Homo sapiens: one gene and its partners. The protein of the gene in region 2 interacts with the protein of the main gene of each other region in a biochemical or structural test. Each region holds a gene or a part of one and is shown on either strand. Other genes may lie near its edges.

What was found.
Region 1: the proteins of TCERG1 (region 2) and WIPF2 form a complex in vitro, tested with the Homo sapiens proteins (one study listed by BioGRID).
Region 3: the proteins of TCERG1 (region 2) and HNRNPU form a complex in vitro, tested with the Homo sapiens proteins (one study listed by BioGRID).

Annotation. Positions count from the first base shown.
Region 1 is NC_000017.11:40,271,304-40,278,303, reverse strand, and holds part of WIPF2 (WAS/WASL-interacting protein family member 2), read right to left. Parts: intron 4,515-7,000; coding exon 4,305-4,514; intron 1,222-4,304; coding exon 1,120-1,221; intron 120-1,119; coding exon 79-119; 3' UTR 1-78. UniProt on the Homo sapiens protein: Plays an active role in the formation of cell surface protrusions downstream of activated PDGFB receptors. Plays an important role in actin-microspike formation through cooperation with WASL.
Region 2 is NC_000005.10:146,506,221-146,512,506, reverse strand, and holds the end of TCERG1 (transcription elongation regulator 1), read right to left. Parts: intron 5,480-6,286; coding exon 5,300-5,479; intron 4,875-5,299; coding exon of another isoform or gene 4,767-4,874; exon of another isoform or gene 4,729-4,766; intron 4,635-4,728; coding exon 4,551-4,634; intron 3,363-4,550; coding exon 3,262-3,362; intron 2,441-3,261; exon of another isoform or gene 2,347-2,440; intron 2,067-2,346; coding exon 1,865-2,066; 3' UTR 546-1,864; downstream 1-545. UniProt on the Homo sapiens protein: Transcription factor that binds RNA polymerase II and inhibits the elongation of transcripts from target promoters. Regulates transcription elongation in a TATA box-dependent manner.
Region 3 is NC_000001.11:244,854,544-244,861,543, forward strand, and holds part of HNRNPU (heterogeneous nuclear ribonucleoprotein U), read right to left. Parts: intron 5,932-7,000; coding exon 5,792-5,931; intron 4,832-5,791; coding exon 4,732-4,831; intron 4,299-4,731; coding exon 4,186-4,298; intron 3,732-4,185; coding exon 3,468-3,731; intron 3,175-3,467; coding exon 3,055-3,174; intron 2,314-3,054; coding exon 2,185-2,313; intron 2,083-2,184; coding exon 1,914-2,082; intron 1,616-1,913; coding exon 1,361-1,615; intron 1,066-1,360; coding exon 881-1,065; intron 502-880; coding exon 430-501; intron 1-429. UniProt on the Homo sapiens protein: DNA- and RNA-binding protein involved in several cellular processes such as nuclear chromatin organization, telomere-length regulation, transcription, mRNA alternative splicing and stability, Xist-mediated transcriptional silencing and mitotic cell progression.

The DNA.
Region 1 (7,000 bases), on a different chromosome or scaffold from region 2:
TTTCAGGGGAATGGAAGGGACCATCTGAGAAGAAGAGAAGGTCCATCCTTTTCCTGAGGAACGGGACCAAGCCAGGCTTCACCTGAGAATGGGTGGCAGAGGTGGGGCTCCACGGGCAGCTGAAAAAAAACAAAATAAAGACCACACACATACAGGTCACCCACCAGAATCTGAACAACCCACACATTCCTAAAATGAGAGACAGGCTCTTTAAGCTAACCTTTAAAATCTGGGGACTACGTGTTATTATTGTTTTGCCTAAGAAAATGAAGATGAGTGGCCAGGCAAGGTGGCTCACGCCTGTAATCCCAGCACTTTGGGAGGCCGAGGCGGGCGGATCACCTGAGGTCAGGAGTTTCAGACCAGCCTGGCCAACCAGGCAAAACCCAGTCTCTACTAAAATTACAAAAATAATCCGGCATGGTGGCACACGCCTATAATCCTAGATACTTGGGAGGCTTAAGCAGGAGAATCACTTGAACCTGGGAGGCAGAGGTTTGGGGTGAGCCGAGATGGCACCACTGCACTCCAGCCTGGGTGACGATAGGGAGACCCTATCTCAAAAAAAAAAAAAAAAAAAGGACAACGAAGATGATGAGAAGCAATTTTTTTTCTTTTTTTTTGAGACGGAGTCTCCCTCTGTCACCCAGGCTGGAGTACAGTAGCGTGATCTTGGCTCACTGCAACCTCCGCCTCCTGGGTTTAAACAGTTCTCCTGCCTCAGCCTCCCGAGTAGCTGGGACTACAGGTGTGTGCCACCACGCCCAGCTAATCTTTTGTATTTTTAGTAGAGACGGGGTTTCACCGTGTTAGCTAGGATGGTCTTGATCTCCCGACCTCATGATCCGCCCACCTCAGCCTCCCAAAATGCTGGGATTATAGGCATAAGCCACCGCGCCCAGCCTAATTTTGTATTTTTAGTAGAGACAGGGTTTCATTATGTTGGTCAGGCTGGTCTCGAATTCCTGACCTCGTGATCCACCCACCTTGGCCTCCCAAAGTGCTGGGATTATAGGTATGAGCCACTGTGCCCAGCGAGAAGCAAATTTTAACCTAAGAAAATGCACAGATTCTACATTCTATGCAATTATGGAAAAACCTTCTTATTATTATTCTCACCTCGGTTTGTTTTGCTGGGATATATCCTCTGAAAGTGTTTATATTCTTCTGGAGCAGGAAAGTCTTCTACTGGATGGAAGGAATACTTTGACTCAAAATCATCTGCGAAAAGAATAGAACATTAATTCCTATCATCCTTGCTTGTGCTCCCACAGGCCTCTGATCGCTTCGACCCTCCCCACTTACTAATCTCTCAGGCATTCTGAGGTACTGTGAGGACCTACTGCCCCACCAAACCAACCACCCTGAGAACAGCAGCAGCATCACCCCACGTGCCTTGCATGCACAGAGCATGTATTCAAAACCTCTCTGTACTAAGTAGTGCGTCTTTGAGCCCATTCTTTATTTATTTATTTTTTGACAGTCTCGCTCTGTCACCCAGGCTGGAGTGCAGTGGTGCCCACCACCTCACCCGGCTAGTTTTCTGTATTTTTAGTAGAGACGGGGTTTCACCATCTTGGCCAGGCTAGTCTCAAACTCCTGTGCTCAGGCAATCTCCCCACCTGGCCTCCCAAAGTGCTGGGATTACAGGTGTGAACCACGCCTAGCCTGAGCTGATTCTTTAAACCTTTCCACCAAGTCAGGCACAGAACAGGAAAGGAGCTCAGTTGTTTGCATGGTAGCAGAAAGAAATATAATTCTTTTTTTTTTTTTTTTTTTTTTTGAGACGGAGTCTCACTCTGTTGCCCAGACTGGGGTGCGGTGGCATGATCTTGGCTCACTGCAACCTCCACCTCCCAAGTTCAAGCGATTCTCCTGCCCCAGCGTCCCTGAGATTACAGGCAGGCACCACCACACCTGGCTAATTTTTGTATTTTTAGTAGAGATAGGGTTTCACCATGTTGGCCAGGCTGGTCTTGAACTCCTGACCTCAGGTGATCCACCTGCCTCGGCCTCCCAAAGCGCTGGGATTACTGGCGTAAGCCACCAGGCCCAGCCAATTCTGGGTTTTAATAACATCTTACAGACTGTCACCACGGGAAAACAACTGATCTAAATCCAGAAATTGGTAGGAATTAATTTAAAATGGGAATATCTGTCTATGACTAGTGAGAGATTTGACCAGATGATTCCCTTTCAGTCCATGTTACCTTCACTTACATAGTTGGGACAGCCATCTCATGGCTTCTACTACTACTTTCTACAGCCCCTCCATCAGAAAGCTCAAATTTTCTGTAAGTGCGGCTTGATCACATCCCAAAGGTTTCTACAATAAGGATATATCTTTAAAGCAAAAACCCTGGCATACCTAATAGGAATAGACTAGAACATGGAGGACAGTGGGTAGGTAAGGACAGCAACCATTAAAGAATCTAGAAGCTGGGCATGGTGGCTCATGCCTGTAATCCCAGCACTTTGGGAGGCCAAGGTGGGTGGGTAGCTTGAGCCCAGGAGTTTGAGACCAGTCTGGGCAACATGGCAAAACCTCATCTCTACAAAAAAAATACAAAATTAGCCAGGCATGGTGGTGCACACCTGTGGTCCCAGCTACTTGGAAGGCTGAAGGATGGGAGGATTGCTTGAGCCTGGGAGGTCGAGACTGCGGTGAGCCGTGATTGCGCTACTGCACTCCAGCTTGGATGACAAAGCAAGACGCTATCTCAAAAAAAAAAAATCTAGAGTGTTAGGGTTGCAAGGGACCTTTCAGAGATTTCTTCCAAGGGTCCTCAACAGACGGGTCTAACAATAGCCTATGGACAACCTTTACTTAGGGTTACATCCCAGAACCAAGGAATCAGAATCTCTTAGGTAGAGCCCCCCCAACATTTATAATCTTGGAAAAGTTAATCTGATACACTTCTGATCTAGTCAACCTAATTTTACAAATAAGGGAAGTGAGGCCCAGAGAAGTAACGTGACTTCCTCAAAATAACACTGCTAGTTAGTGGCTTTGGATTAATGTGTGTAATGTTTTGGGTTTTGTTTTTTTTTTTTTTTTTTTTTGAGACGGAGTCTTGCTCTGTCACCCAGGCTGGAGTGCAGTGGCACAATCTTGGCTCACTGCAACCTCCACCTCCTGGGTTCAAGAGATTCTCCTGCCTCAGCCTTCTGAGTAGCTGGGATTATGGCTGCGTGCCATCATGCCCAGTTAATTTTTTATATTTTTAGTAGAGATGGGGTTTCACTATGTTAGCCAGGCTGGTCTCAAACTCCTGACCTCAGGTGATCCGCCTGCCTCGGCCTCCCAAAGTACTGCGATTACAGGCGTGAGCCACTGCACCCAGCCGACTTTTTTTTTTTTTTTTTTTTTTTGAGACAGATTCTCTCTCTGTCGCCCAGGCTGGGGTGCAGTGATGTGATCAATGGTTTGCTGCAGCCTCAACCTCCCTGGACTTAGGCAATCCTCCTGAGTAGCTGGAAACACAGGCGTGTGCCACCACACCCAGCTAATTTTTGTATTTTTTAGAGAGATGAAGTTCCACCATGTTGCCCAGGCTGGTCTTGAGTTCCTGGGCTAAAAGCAATCCTCCCACCTTGGCCTCCCAAAGTGCTGGGATTACAGGCATGAGCCACCACGCCCAATCCTTTTTTCTTTAATATTTTTTGTCATTCTTTCTTCTTTTTTCTTTCCAGGCAATGTGCCATGGGACTTTTCTTTTTTTTTTTTTTTTTTTTTTTTTTTTTTTCAAGAATTCCAAGGAAAGGCTGGATGTGATGGCTCACATGTGTAATCCCAGCACTTTGGGAGGCCAAGGTTGGAGGACTGCTTGAGACCAGGAGTTTGACAGCGGCCTGGGCAACAGAGACCCAGTCTCTATAAAAAATAATTAAAAAATAATAATTCCAAGAACAATCAAGTGTTTTGTTTTTGAAGAGCTAGAAAGGAACACTCCTTCCTAGGAGAATACATAAGTCCTGTCTGAATAATCCTAAAGAAGATACAGAGTCTCTGACCTAAAAGCTAGCTACAAAAAGTGATCTTTGGAGTGGATTTAGAGTTAGCACAACACTTGCTGATTTTACTTCAATCTACTCCAAAGCATCCATGCTTAGAATTCATATCAAGATAAGGAAGTCAATGAACACAGCCCATACCTCTGAGGATGAAGTCAGCAGGAGAACTATTGTGAACAAAGGATCCCATGTGGCCATTCCCACTCTATGGTGGCCATCTAGCAGCCATGGCACTGGAGTGGGTGAAGTCACCGCAGGAACCATGAGACTACAGATAGCTAGCTACTCACCCAAGAAAGACCGGACAGTGGTGATAGAATCTCTGTGGCCATTCCTCAGGGGCGGTGGAGGAGGAGGGGGTGGCCCAGCTGGCGTCCTTGAGGGTGGAGGTGGGGGCTTTCCTCGGCTCGGGGGTTCTGACCCATGCATTCGGTATGGTGGTGGGGGAGGGGGAGCATCCCTGGCACCATTTCGGATCACAGGTGGTGGGGGTGGAGGAGCTGCAATTAAAATCCAAAGTAGTTAGGTTTGGATGTGGAGACGGCAAGGGGTAGAATGACTTGAAACACATGAGCTAAAAGAGTAACACACCCCACAGAGGCTCACAGTGCCTGGTTCCCCTTTGTCCTTATTACTTGAACAGCATCACCATTCTTCCAGATACCAACATTCAGAATAAATGTATGGCCTTTTTACATTTCCTACCAGTCAGTCAGAACCCTATCTGTTCTTGATTTTTTTCCTGCTTTTCCATGCCTTCCTCCACAATTCTAATTCAGGTCTTCCTTATATTTAGCCTGTTCTCTACTGCAAAAGCCTTCCGAATGTTCTCCTTGCTTTGTCTCTTACCCCTCCAAATTCATTTTGCATAACACCAACTCACCAACCTCCCTAAAAACTTGATCCAGTTTTTTCAAAGGCTTTGCACTGCCTAAATCATAAAGTCTCAAACTGTGGCTGGGTGTGATGGCTCACGTCTATAATCCTAGCACTTTGGGAGGCCGAGGCGGGAGGATTGCCTGAGCTCAGCAGTTGGAGACCAGCCTGGGCAACATGATGAAACTCCATCTCTACTAAAAATACAAAAAATTAGCCCGGTGTGGTGGCGTGTGCCTGTAGTCCCAGCTCCTCAGGAGGCTGAGGCACAAGAATCACTTGAACCTGGGAGGTGGAGGTTGCAGTGAGCCCAGATTGTGCCACTGCACTCCAGCCTGGGCAACAGAGAGAGACTCCATCTCAAATACATAAATAAGTAAAAAAATAAAGTCTCAAAGCCTTTGCTTACATAGTAACCTACCACACCAATCAGCTTGAGCTTGGCTTCTCCTCTTCCCTTCTTATTGCTAGGCTAGGTTAGGAGCCCTCCTCTGCACTTCCACTGCAGCTTGTGCATACCTACCACTTGAATAGACTATTATAATTATTTATTCTGTGTGCTCTTTCCCCAGTATACTGTGTACCCCTTGATGTCAGAGCAGTTCCTCCTTCTGGGTTCCCAAGTTCAGCCAAATGTACAGCACACAGCAGGTGCTCAATCAATGTTTGCTGAATAAACCAAATTATATGCTTTGCTCTTGTGACTCCCCTCACAATATTCTGATATCCCCCCTTCCCTTACTACCAAATCCTCCCTACCCTTCAAGGTTCAATCCAAGTCCCATCTTCTCAAGGCTTTCCCAAAGCAATCCATTTTCTTCTGAGTCCCTCCACCTCTGCTCTCCCACAGCATATACAGGCTATGTCACTTACTCTAATATCAATGAGCGATTTTCAAAATATATACAGCAGATTCATTGTGGGAAGTTACATATGTCCAGTAACAGTCTCATTGCTCAAACACTGCAAACACCTCTTTTGGAATTGCCTCCAAAGCAAGTTTATCAGTCAGAGCTGTAAACACTATTATATGATGGTCACATTTCATTTCTGAGGTCGCCCCACCACCATCACCAATGAAAATATTCATACCTATGCCAGGCACGGTGGCTCACGCCTGTAATCCCAGCACTTTGGGAGGCCGAGGCGGGAGGATCACCTGAGGTCGGGAGTTCGAGACCAGCCTGATCAACATGGAGAAACCCAGTCTCTATTAAAATACAAAAATTAGCCAGATGTGGTGGTGCATGCCTGTAATCCCAGCTACTCGGAAGGCTGAGGCAGGAGAATTGCTTGAACCCAAGAGGCGGAGGTTGCGGTGATCCAAGATCGTGCCATTGCACTCCAGCCTGGGCAACAAGAACAAAACTCTGCCTCAAAAAAAAAAAAAAGAAAATGTTCATACCTATGTCTGAATCTGCTTTTTGGTGATTCCAAAAATCAAATTCACTCTTAAAAGATGAAAATTTGCCACCAAGTAGAAGGTAACGTCAAAAGCATGTGTCAAGAAATGGCAATATGACTGGAATATAATAGATTCTAACGTGTTTGTCTTACTCCTATGCTCTGTATTAACTAACAATAATAGCAGCTACCATTTATTGGGTATCTATTATGTTCCAGGCATTTTCGGTGTATTAAATCTTTAAAAAGTCTTATAGCCACACATGCGAAGTATGTAATATTATCCCCATTTCACAAATGAGAAAACTGGGACTCAGGTTATTTGTTTAAGGTCACAGATCAAATAAAAATAGGCAAGGCACATGTCTGCTCTTTCTACTCTCCCACACTGCTTTTCGTAACTCCCAGTATTCTGCATAGTATCTTCCCAACCAGATTTACAATCCAGTGGCTTGGAAGTGCATCTTTTGGTATCTAGGCCATGTTCAATTTTTTTTTTTTTTTAAGAGACAGGGTCTCACTCTGTCACCCAGGTTAAAGCGCAGTGGTGGAATCATAGCTCAGTGCAGCTTCAAACTCCTGGGCTCAAGCAATGCTCCCGCCTCAGCAAAGGGCTGGGATTATAGGCATGTGCCACAGCACGTGGCCCAATAAATAGTTGTGACCTAAATAGTATGTGAAGAGACTACTCAGCTTAACAGACAAA
Region 2 (6,286 bases):
TGGCGGTTGACGCCTGTAATCCTAGCACTTTGGGTGGCCGAGGTGGGAGAATGGCTTGAGGCTAGGAGTTTGAGGCCAGCCTGGGCAACAGAGTGAAACCATTTCCAAAAAAATTTTAAAAAGAAAAAAAAAAAAGCCAGACATGGTAATGCATGCCTGCAGTCTCAGCTACTCAGAAGGATCACTGAAACCAGGAGTTCAAAGTTACAGTGAGCTATGATGGCACCACTGCACCCCAGCCTAGGAGACAGAGTAAGATCCTTTGTACGCATAAAAAGAAAAAACATATCCTGTTTATCAACTTTACAGCTGAAGACCTTAGTCTGATCAATGCCAGGTTCCTACATAAAGAGTTCACAAAATTTCCATGGCACTTAATAGATTTAAGCTATGAACTATATAACATGGATGTGAATGTGTGTGTCTGTGACTGTATGCACACAACATACAAATACAGATCTGTTGGTATTCCTTCTTTCTAGGATTTGTTACAATCATAGTCGGTATGAGATAATGGAAAATAAATTATTCTATTAACATATATATTTTGTTAAACATTTTATTTATGTGGCACTCTGAAACGAGCAACCTATGAAGGCATAAAATAAAAAGATTTTTTTTTAACTCGGGAGGTAAAGCTAGATATATCAATTAGGAACTGATTCATGGTGTGATGTACACGACATGTTGAAAGAATGCCAAAAAGGCGCAAACCATCATACATTAATACAAAGGACAAAAACAAAAAAAACCCCAGCATCTTCTTGCTATGAGGCAATAAGGCACTGCTAAGAGACTTGAGCACCAAAATGATTCTCTACAAATTCCTTCCTTTTTATACTGCAAATACTGCATTATTATATTCAAACCTTTAAAAACTAGGTAATACTTAAGATTTAGAGTCAACTTACTTTGTGGGAAATTCTATTTGCTGCTTTTAAAAACAGGTTAAAATAAGCTCTTAAAAATTAAGTAACAATAATCATATACAATACAGATATATAAAAAGGGTTGGTTTATTGTAGTTCAAATACATAAACTGAACATTCAAACATCTTAAAATTAAACTTTAGCAACAAAGTTTAACATTCAAACAGGAGTATAGTTTACAAGAAACACCCAGAAAGGTAATTTGTTGTCTAATCCAGAATATTGATAAAGATCACTTAATGGTGAATAAAATATGTTTAACCAGTGGTTCTATTCTGGCCAACATGTTAGTTATGACCGTGGTTCCATACCTGAGAAGAAATTACTACATAAATCTTCTCTTAGGCTAAACAACAAGACTCGGTCTATAATTCAGAGGGGATAATCAAAGCACGTAAGTGAACAAATAAAACTAATCTGATCTTTAGAGACAAAGGTAAAAGTATTGTCCATTATAATAATTGTAGCCTCTGGAAGATAAGAATTCAATTTTCAGTGTTTTCTCTTTTACCCGCTTTAAAAAAAAAAAATCAAAACAAAACAAACCCCAACTCGGGTTTTCTTGGAGTCTGTGGTATTTGCATCTGGCAAGTTCAAGCCACAAATGCTCTTACTTCTTGCATGTATTAACACTGCTAGGAAGAACGTCACCAAGTCACTGACTTCCACACCTCATAAAAGGATGAATTTTAGCTTCAAGATTTTAAGATTTACTAGAGACAGCCTATATTTGAGTATGTATGTCAGTCATGCCACACAAAGAAAAGCATAAATATTTCCAAAGTGTTCTGTTCAGAAACTGTTCACAAATGCTTCTCCTTCTGTTTGTCAGATGGTTTCGCAATAGGTTGACTAATGCACATATATGTAAAAACCTGAAAATTGGCTCATGCAAGCATTTTGAATAGATGCCCCTATGGAAGAGTATTTAGAATTATTTTGTTGATCGTCTCGTGGGCTCCGATGCTGTGGGAGGTGGGGGTGGACCCCGGCGATCCAGGTCATCAACATATGCCACAATCAGTTTACGCCTCTCCTCTGGCACACAGTCCAGTACTAGATACCGTTTGTCATTCTGTAAAATTTTTTCTACATCTTTCAGGTGCTGATCTGATTCTTGGATTAATTTTTTGGATCTGAAATAAGAAAAAGAAGTCCAAGAATTACTGACTGCTGTTCACAGGTCTTTCAGAAATGAGCTGGAAATGTCCATCTAGTTCCTAATTGTGTTTCCATTTTTTTTTTTTTTTTTTTTTTTAAGAAAAATTTCACGGCAGTGGTCACCTTTGTAAGTCGCCTCAGCAAAGACTCCAAGGAGTGAAAGGGCCTCAGAAGCTGAATTACCCTCCCACCCCTAGTGGTGGTCCCTCCAGATCAGGGCTGAGGGTGGGTGGGTAAATCTTGCCCGTGCTGTACCTGTTCTGTGGATGAACAGAGGACTTCAGTCTGCGGGGCTGCCAATCCCAGCATCTTTCACAAGCTTTCACTTTCACATCTTTCACTAAATTAACTATAAAAATGTAGAAAGAAGTCTTACTTCACATCTAATTTAAAAGCCCAAGCTGATGCAAAACATTAAGGATCCTGACCAAAAAATCCAAATGACAAAATATCTAAAAACCACACCCTCAGCACTATCTAGCCTCCCGTGCACATACCCTTTATTAAGATGTTTCAAATTTCTCTCTTAAAGAAGAAAAGCTGGAGCATGAAACAAAAATGGTTTCCTGCATACTGACTGGTAAGCAATGCGAAATTGTTTTCCTGATGATAAATTGTTAGGGGTGAAGAACTGTTGGGTTTGCTACAGAGAAATCTTGTTTAAAGGCTCTGATTTCATAATTTACAATTTTTATTTAAATGTACCCAGCAAAATGCTTTCCTCTGAGGGAAAAAAAAATGTTTATGCTGAGCTTAAATAGATGATTTCATGCTTTAGAATGATCTAACCACACTGAATAGTCTTCAGAGGAGGCAAAGATAACTGATAGTGAAAGATTATTTTAAAAGTCTCTTCATGAAATACAATTCTTATATAGTTGAGGGTATTCCTAAAAAAAGCGGTGAAGTAAAAAAAAAAAAAAGGTATGTATTCAAAACTGGATGGGTGGGTAACACAAAATAAGAATTGACATCTGGGCCCTTTCTTTAAAAAAAAAAAAAAGTATGGTAGATATGGGCTGTATTTGACTTTGGACAGAAGTTGGTATCTTCTTATCCCTAAAAATTAATAATGTCAACATGTGTGTGAATGCAAAGAATGCTCTGACCATTAGAGTAAAGACTAGTAAAGAGAATGACTGCCAATATGAAACATTTCATTGCACACACCTATATGTTATAAATTTGGTCTCTTTCAAAAGCGTCCTGAAGTCAGCTTTGGCTGTGATATATTTGTCTCTGATATATTCTTCAAATTCTCTTTGTTTTTTCTGTTAATAAAAAAAAAAAAGTTGAGATTATGGAAATAAAACCCACTAATTCCAAAATAAACATCAATTATTTATTAAACAGTAATGTGTAAGTCACATAATAAAATTTAAAATTCAAAAGAAAAAGGCAACAGGGTACATTTTGTTCATATATAAAATTCATTAAATCACAATTTGCAAGGCTCATTTTTGCGGCAAATAGAAAGAATGAGGAATCATAAATTAGTAGTGGCTAAAACTTGAGAACTTGCTATGTGCTACACTGCTGAGCATTTTATGAGGATCATCTACTTCAATCTTCACAACAACCTCATGAGGTGGACACTTAAAAATAAGGATATTAAGGATTAAGTGTTCACTTCCTGCACACTGTATTTTTAACTTCAAGAACAAAAAGAGTAATTTGTGGATACAGCAACTGTAGGTTAACACTCAATACTTAACTTACACAGTAATGAGCATTTAGCTTTCTGGCAAGCCAAAAGTAATAAGATGAATAAACTCTTTGGACTTAAAAAAGACTTTATTATCAATTCTAAACAGTCAGAAAAGTTAGAAACTGAGACTGGGTCTACCCCTCTTTCCCAGTCATGCATATTTTATGGTCCAAACATCTACAATCCAATAGACTTTGAGGGGGAAGAATATTAGATTTATGAGTTTTTATAAAAGATGCCCAGACCTACAGAAACCAACCAGGAAAGGGGAATGATGTAAAAGAAAACAAATAAAAGGCCTAGGGATAAAATGGACTGTAGTAAACAACACTTTTCTTGACATCATTCACTGTTTCAGACCTTGAAGCATATGAGAACTAGCGATCTCATTACAGGGCTCTGTTTGGCTTAAGAGTCAAGTGCTTTGATAGTTTGGTACCAATTGCCAGCCTAAATATGTCTGTCTAGTGGTACCTGACTAAAATAAAACTGCAGCTTCATTAAATTTCTAAGATCCTAAAATACAAGCTTCACCCCAAGTACTAAAATTTTAAACTTTCTATTGTGCTGTCTTGCTAATTTATCATGCAAGAAACAATACATAAACTTAAAATTCAGATTTACTTCTCATACACTTAAAAGTAATTCACTTAAAACAATCAACTTCATTTTGGTTAAGATAGTAGTGCTGTTAGGCCCCGATTTAAGTATTTATAGACTGACAGTAAATCTCGACACAAAATCCTCTTACCCTGTCACTGGAGGAGAACTTAATACATCGAGGATCTTCCTTAATGATTTTTTTTACTTCTTTCCACGTGGATGTTAAGGTAATCTTTGAAAAGACATGAATAAAAAACATAAATACAACTCACTTTTACTTAGGGAGTCAAACTGCAGCACATAGGTACATAATATTACACACTGACCTGCGATCTCTTGTAATGCCCAAGCGTAACTGGACTAGTTAGGGACAGGGAAGCAGCGTTAATGCAATTTCTTTTTGTTGGCTTGCCACAAGAGTTATTTTCATGGCCATACTTTCAAGGTGGCCTAAGACAATCACCTGCAAACCCTGTATTTACATGGGCAAACATCATAACTTCTGAAGAAACCATCACCAAAAAGAGAGCAAATAAAAAGGAACAAAACCTGGATAACAAAGCGTACAAACTGCCGAACAAGAGGCCATAGTACCAAATTGAAAATGGATCAAAAGAAGAAATTTGCTAAATCTATTATTAGGAGGGATCACTGACCACATGGCTAAGGACATTTTGAATTACTATGGGAGCAGTTATGAATGTGAAAACTGCAAAGAATAGGCATTTCTAAATAAATAAGAATACCATAATTTTTTAAAATCAGAGAATTGTCATAAGATGCATTCCAGTAATGAATCTAAAGACCATGACACTAAAAATCATATCAATGCTTTGCTTTAAGAAATTACTAACAAGATTCATCCAGATTAAAATGAGAAAAATAAGAGATTCTTACTGCAGAAGTTTCATCCAGAAGTTGCCTAAAGTGCTCTCTCTTTTTTTTGGTAAGTGCTTCAATGTGTTCATTAAAAAGCTTCTCTTTCTCCTCTCTTTCCAATAAGGATCCAGATTCCCAGCGGTGATCTTTTCGGAGGGTCCTACGAGTATCAGACCATGACACATCTGAAGAACGTACCTGAAGAGAAAAAATTATATATATATCACCAAAGAGACTTATCTGAATGTCCATTTGCACTTCCATGTCCACTGCAGCATTATTCACAATAGCCAAGATATGGAATCAACCTAAGTGTCTATCAACAGATACATGGATAAAGAAAATGTAATAAATATACACAATGGAGTACCACTCAGCCTTAAAAAAAGAGGAAAATTCTATTCATTTATGGCATGGATAAACCTAGAGGACAACATAAGTGAAATAAGTCAAGCACAGAAACACAAATACTGCATAGTCTCACATTTGTGGAATCCAAAAAAGTTGAACTCATAGAAATAGAGAGTAGATGGTCACCAAAGTCTAGGGGGTAGGAGACAGGACAAGGGAGAGAATGAGGAGTTACTTGTCAAAGATAATGAAGTTTCAGAGACAGCAGAAATAAGTTTTGAGACCTACTGCACACCAGGGTTAACTAAAGCCAATAATGTATTCTACATTCAAAATAACTGAGAGTAAATTCCAAGTGTCTCACCACAAAAAATTATAAGCAAACAAAGTGATGAATATGTTAAACAGCTTTGGTTTAATCATTCCATATTATCTACCTATATCAAAACAGCAACTGTACCCCGTAAGTATATACAATTATGACTTCTCAAAACAATTTTTAAGAAGAAGACAGTATAATAGAAGGCATAACAGGTCTGGCTGGCTCACCAACCAGCAAAAAGATATGCTTCATTGGTGATAATGGCATTAAAAGTTAAGCCACACTACTGCCAATGTGAAGAAACACAGACTAAAATAACAGAAAGGTAAGAA
Region 3 (7,000 bases), on a different chromosome or scaffold from region 2:
AAGCCACTCAAACTGTTTTTAGGAAATGACAATGAATCTAATTCAGAGTAATTTGCTGGAAACAAATTTATACCTGTCATACCTCTGATTTCTACCAAACCAGATTTAGTTTTAATATCCCATAATTATCAATACACATTACAAAACGAAACATCATGACTTTGTTAGTTTACACAATTAAAGCTAGCAGTAAAAGAACTGTATATATTAAATAATATTACTTTATTAAAAAAATTTAACTTATAGCAATCTTCAACCTATTTTGCCTTCAAAAGGTAGATTATGGCTACTACTGCAAGACGATTCACACTTTACCCTATTAACACTTATAAACACTTCAATCCCTGAACAAGATCTTTTTCAAGACTGATAAATCTTAGGAACTCAAAATACAATTAATGTACATAAAGCACATAAGAAATTACTTACACCCTGCTGCCACTGGTTGTAGCCCTGAGATTGATTTTTGTAGCCACGATTGTTTCCTCGTCCTCTGAAGTTCTACAAAAAGGAAATACTCTCTAAGAGCTCTGAGCCCAATTGCTTGTTAGGTTTGTGGGGGTGAGAGAGAGGAGCAGAAATGGACAGGTTGCTAGCCCCTAATCTTAGGTAGCAAGCAATACACAAATTCTGGATACCCTCTGCTGGTTTCTTATGTTTTAATTTTTTATTCATTATGAGAAATGCATCTGACTTGTTTAGTACACCTGAAAAAACTCAAAAGTAAGTAGACTCATTTCACCATTACTAGTTCAATTTTCCTTATGTCAATGCCTATCATGTTCCTTACGGATTACTAAGACACCCCAACATAAAGCTCACACCTTTCCAGACTAAGCTACAGTTATCAATCATGCTTCCAGGGATCTTGAATCATTACCTGGTTGTAGTTCCCTCTGTTGGGCATTCCACCTCTGTTGTAGTTCCCTCTGTTTGAGTAACTACCACGGCCAGGAAAAACAGGGGCACGAGGGTATGGATAGCCGATTCCACCACTTCCTCCACCGCCACCACCTCTCTGTGGCATGTTGCCCCTCCTATTATATCCGCCACGATTCCCAGGGGCTAAAAGACAAGAGCTGTTTTAGTTTCATTGTATATTGTACCCTACTTATACAGAAGACTTAGGATTCCTCTAGATTGTTCCTTTTTCTCCAAAAATAATTGTTTAAAGACAAAAGAAATGTTTAATTCTAACCATTAACATAACCTAGGTGTATTTAATATCAAATCACATGAATACTTTAGTTACTGTGACAGTATACCATTAATGAGGAAGAAACTTCAGCTACATCCAAACTATAAAATTATCACTTGTTTCGATCCTGAACTAAATACAGAACACTCAAAATTAACTTGCCTCCTCCTCTGAAATTTCCACCACGCATATTGAATCCTCCACGTCCTCTATGGCCACCACCTCTGTTAAACTGGTTCTTGCCACTCTTATTTTTATTGCTTTTCTTTGAGCCAGTGTTCTGTTTCTTTTCTGGTGGAAGAGCCTTTTTGCTTTCTTCCTTATATTGCTCCAAGAGTTTTTGGGCTTCTTCCTTCTGAAGTTCAACATAGGTTATTTCATCAAAGCACTCAGCTACCTCTGGGAGGGTAAAGTTTCCTGCAGGAAACAAAGTCATATTATTAATTTAGAAACCCACCACGAATCCTCACAATCCTAAAGCTGACAATTCTTGAGGTTTAGTAACATATTTTCCTAAAAATAAAAACAGACCAAACATATATGCATATGTAACAACTGCAATTTTAATTCCTGAAGCAGTATTGCTGGAAAAAATGTTAACTTTCAGGAGGCCTAAGTCCTAATAGATTTAACATAGTTACACAAGCAGAATATGTAGGAAAAACATTCTTTTAAAAAGAAGATTTCACACAGTAACAGAATTAAAATTCCATGCCTTTCATTTTGAGGACCGCATGTTCTGGTAGGTCTTTCCCCTCTACTTCTGCTTTCTTCTGTGTTCTTTGCTTATAGTCTTCATCTTTTGGGCAAACTACAACAGCTTTTCGCTGGAAGCCTGCAAACAGGCACATTTTTCTCCTCTGGGCAGCAGCAGACACATTTGTCTTTAAAAAAAGAAATTTATGTTTACAACCCTAAACATTAATTCTACACCAATCTATCTAAATTATCAGTTAATATTTTTCAATTTCAAAGCTACAGCGTACCTGATCCAGAATAAAATTTCGCTTCTTTCGGGCAGCAATCTCAATAAATTTCCCAAGACACTGGGGGGCTCTCTGCAACAGTGTGTTCAGTTTTCCAGTATCTGCCATTTGCTTCTTAAAACCTGCCACCTATATTCAAAAGTTAAAATTTCCCCTTGAACTTGTGAATTTTAATAAGTTATGCTTTTTAAAATTCAACTCATATCTATATGTAAAGCAGGCAACATTTTATAATTTAAATATTACCTTTGTCCATTATTGCTACAAAAACAGGGTCACTTAAACTATGTAACAAGACCTTACACTTACTCAATTCTTTTTAGCTGCTAGATGTTAAGAGCTCAAAAACACTACGGAAAAAAACAGAAGCCTAGCCAGTGGAAGGCAGTTTACCCTCAGAGTTGAAAGAACCAACTTAATCTTGCCTTTCCTCCCATCTCTTTAAGATACTAACAAAATGGATAGAGACAAAGACAAAAAGTTTACCTAGAATACCTCCCGGTCTATAATTTTTCTTTTCTTTTTTTTTTTTTTCTGAGACGGAGTGTTGCTCTGTCGCCCAGACTGGAGTACAATGGCACGATCTCAACTCACTGCAACCTCTGCCTCCCAGGTTCAAGTAATTGTCCCTGCCTCAACCTCCCGAGCAGCTGGGATTACAGGAACCCACTACCACACCCAGCTAATTTTTAAATTTTTAGTAGGAACGGGGCTTCGCCATGTTGGCCAGGTGGGTCTCAAACTCCTGACCTCAGGTGATCCATCCACCTCAGCCTCTCAAAATGCTGAGATTACAGGCGTGAACCACCATGCCCAGCCTCTCCCAGTCTATTTTAAACACTGAGATCAGGCCCTAAACATTTTACTTACCATCATCTTATCCATAATAGTATTTGTGCCAAGAATGTTATATTTCCCTGGATTTTCTGCTGCATGTTTAGTAACCCAGGTAGTTTTTCCAGCTCCTGGCAAGCCAATCATCATCACAACCTAGTGAAAAGAAAAGAAATGTCATTTCACTGTCAGTAGACACCACCTAATAATTCTTTAAATATTGTTAAGGCCAATTTAAATATCTAAGTTTTCATAGCCCTTACACTAACGGACAAAAATTTGTTTATGGAAAGATTAACAGTCAACATAAGGGGGAAACAATTACTTAAGAGCAATATGCACAGCACAAAGTAAATGAAACAGACTAATCATCTAGTTCTTCTAAATGTCATTTTGTGCCAGGCAAGCAATATTCAAATGCCACAGTTAAAAAAAAAAAAATCCCTTACTTCACAATCTTTCTTCTCTTCAGGCCCCTTTGGTCCTCTAACTCGATCCTCTAAGGGGACGTTCTGGATGAAAGTATACTCTTCAGGTATTGGAAAATATGGCTTTTCCTTCTGACCAAAATTAAATTCAACTGCACAGTTGTGGCAGAGAACATGCGGGAACAGTGGCCGTCCAGCAAGAACTTCCTTACTGATTTTGAAGGCAACGCCAAGATCTTGTCCATTCTTAGCATACGAGAGTTCTACTTCATCACTTTCAAAGTTCTGTTACACAGAAAAAAATTCAACAGTTAAAATCTGCTTCCTTAAACTTTCTAAAAAACTAAGAATTAAAATTAGGAGCAAAGCTTATCCTGTGGAAGCTACAGGTTAAAGAACTATTAGGTGGCCTTTAAGGGCTACACAGTTAAGAAATCTGATGGTTGTAAACCATGAAGCACGTATCTCCAGAACCAGAAACAATACTGACCTAGAAGCTAGACTGAATTTTCTAGGTCAATTTCATGTTCACTGTTTTCAGTCAAAATGAATTAGTGAGTTCCTCAAAAATGTCCTGTGTTTTCCCAATTCAACTGCTGAATGAAGTCTTTACACTAATCCAGGGACTGGTGTATTTTGTTGCTCATATTGAAAACTGACCTCAGTAAAGCTTCTTTAAAGTTCCTAGATATAGCTACTAACTTTGCCATTTATACATAGAAAGTTAGCTTTAACTTACAGCAAAACATGTAATCACATCATTTTCATCAAACTTTTCTCCATAATCTTCAGTCTCACAGTTGCATGTTTTTATTCCTTTTAGAGAATACCCATAAGAAAATTCTTCTTCACCTAAGAAAATAATTAATCTTCATGAAGTAGATGTTTAAAATAGTCCAAAGACTCATCTATTTTACTACTTAAGATGTAGGCTACAAGAGAAATAAGCATATAACCTAATCACCTGTCACTGACACTATTACTTTTCTATCTCTGTACCAGAATTGATGGAAGTTAGGAGGGATATATACGCAGAGACCAAATTAGTTGACGATTTGCATATCACGGGTAAGATTTTATTTCAACCATTGGTCATAAACTTCTAATAAAGGAACAAAAACTAAAATGTAGCCTGTGCCTACTATGTGCTAATATTACCTGTCTGAAGTATTAACAGAATAGATAAAAACAGACAAAAGGCTTAGAATGCCCTCTAGTTAAAAAACACTGAAATCAGACCCTCCTGAACATTCATGAGCCCACATCAGTCAAAAAGAAGCTTTACCAAGTAACATTCCACTTGTAGTTAGTGACCAGCCAATACGAACTTCATGTATGTCAATATCTTTTGTATATAAATGCCTTACTGGGATCTTCTCTGTAACCTGAAAGTCAAATCATTAAATAATTAAAATAATACACCAAGGAGGTAACCCCTTAACTCTCGCATATTTCATTGCGCCACGGGCTAATCTTCCTCTAGCTATAAATACAAAGAAGGCACACTCTAGCCCACCCCCAATATTTGTAAGAACTTTAAACTGATGTGCTTATAACTTGAAATTTAAAGAGTTAAATACTTATTTGACCCATATTTAAAAGAATACTTAATATTTTTAAAGTTCATGTTGTCAGTCTTTAACTTAAAGCCAATTAAAGGATACAATTAATGTTTTTCTCACCAACAAAAGCAGTAATGTAACCAAATTTTATTTTTAACTCTTTGGTGGCCCTTTCAAATGCTTGATAAAAATGAAGTACCCTAAATAAAAAATCGCCTAGCTCTGCATGGCAAGTTCTAACATAACAACCGTGATTAACTGTCACAACAAAATGAAGGTTCCAAGCTCCTCTTTTAATTTACAGGAAGCTTCAAAAATAAGTACCTTTGATAACTTAGCAGTATGAAGCACCTGTAATTCCAGCATTCTGAGAGGCTCAGGCGGGCAGATCACTTGAGCTTAGGAGTTCAAGACCAGCCTGGGCAACATGGTGAGACCTTGTCACTATTTTAAAAAGGAAAAAAAAAGGCTGGGCACAGTGGCTCATGCCTGTAATCCCAGCACTTTGGGACGCCGAGACAGTGGATCACCTGAGGTCAAGAGTTGGCGACCAGCCTGGCCTACGTGGTGAAACCCCATCTCTATTAAAAATACAAAAATTAGCCAGGTGTGGTAGTGTGTGCCTCTAGTCCGAGCTACTTGAGAGACTGAAGCAAGGAGAATCGCTTGAACCCAGGACGCGGAGGTTGCAGTGAGCCTAGGTCGCACCACGGCAATCCAGCCTAGGGAACAGAGTGAGACTGTCTCCACAAACAAACAAACAAATCATAAAATTGCATTTACCTTCATCTCAAAACACACTTTGCCTTTTGACACACCATAGGATGCTCTTCCTCCAGCCCAAAGAAAAGCAAAACTCTCCATTGTAAGGGAAGAAGCACTGAGACGATCTCTTGATATTTTAAAATGTAGATCACAATTATCTGTAATTATATCAAATACTGTGTTACTTTTGACATCCAATGTAAACATATCTGCTATGTAGACAAAACTTGGTTACTTAATTTTTGCATGTACTTCTTAATGCTGCACAACTTTTCTCCACATCATGCTGTTGTTCCAATTTTCAGTTTAAAGCCCCACTCCCACCAAGTCACTCCTGTTAAATTATGTACTGAAAAGTAAACTGCCTGTGAAACTAATACCAAGGTTTAACATGTATATTTTAAGTATTTAAAATAATCAAGACAATGTGACATTAATACATACCTGCTCTGCTCTTTACCTTGATTTAGAGGCAAGCAGTAGAGGATAGCAGGAAATCAAAGTGAAGCATGCCAGAACCAGGTAGATTTACCAGTGCCACATTAAAACTGAAGGGAGGCCACGACCAAATTATTTTAAAATAGGAGTATGAGCTGCTGTTGATCCTGCACCAGGGCTCTAGCTCCTAAATTCTTTTTCTAAAACTTGTGAAGAAGACAGCCTAAAACTATGAAGTACAAACCTGGCCGTCTAATGCTGTTAATAGTGCAGCATTTTAGGTCCTCTTTACCCAGGACTGCCTGTTCAACAATTAGGGATTAATTGCTTCCCGGATTATCCAAATCCAAAGTGTCTTTAACCCAGCTACCTATGGGTCACTGGCTCATTAACATGCACTTCCTCAGACTTCTCACTTGAACAGCTAAAGTCAAGCTGGAACTCATTTTCTTTTTACTGATCAGAGAAAAATAAATCTACAGTTTGGAATTTTTCTTAAATTAGAGTTATTCTAATCAACAGAATTTAATTCAACAGATTGTTTGAATTCAACATTGTACTTATATTGACATATTCCTGATTTGCTAAAAAATCTAACAATTACATTACCTGTGTGAGTCACCACTTCACTACCTTGCCAATTCCTAGCAACTTATTTATACAACCCAGAATTTCACTAAAACTTTCACATCAACTAACTCCTTTTTCACCTGCAGTTTTTTCTTTTAAAAAGGCTCAGATGACTATCTCAACCTTCTGTAAAGGATATTCCAGTAAGAAAGAGTTTTA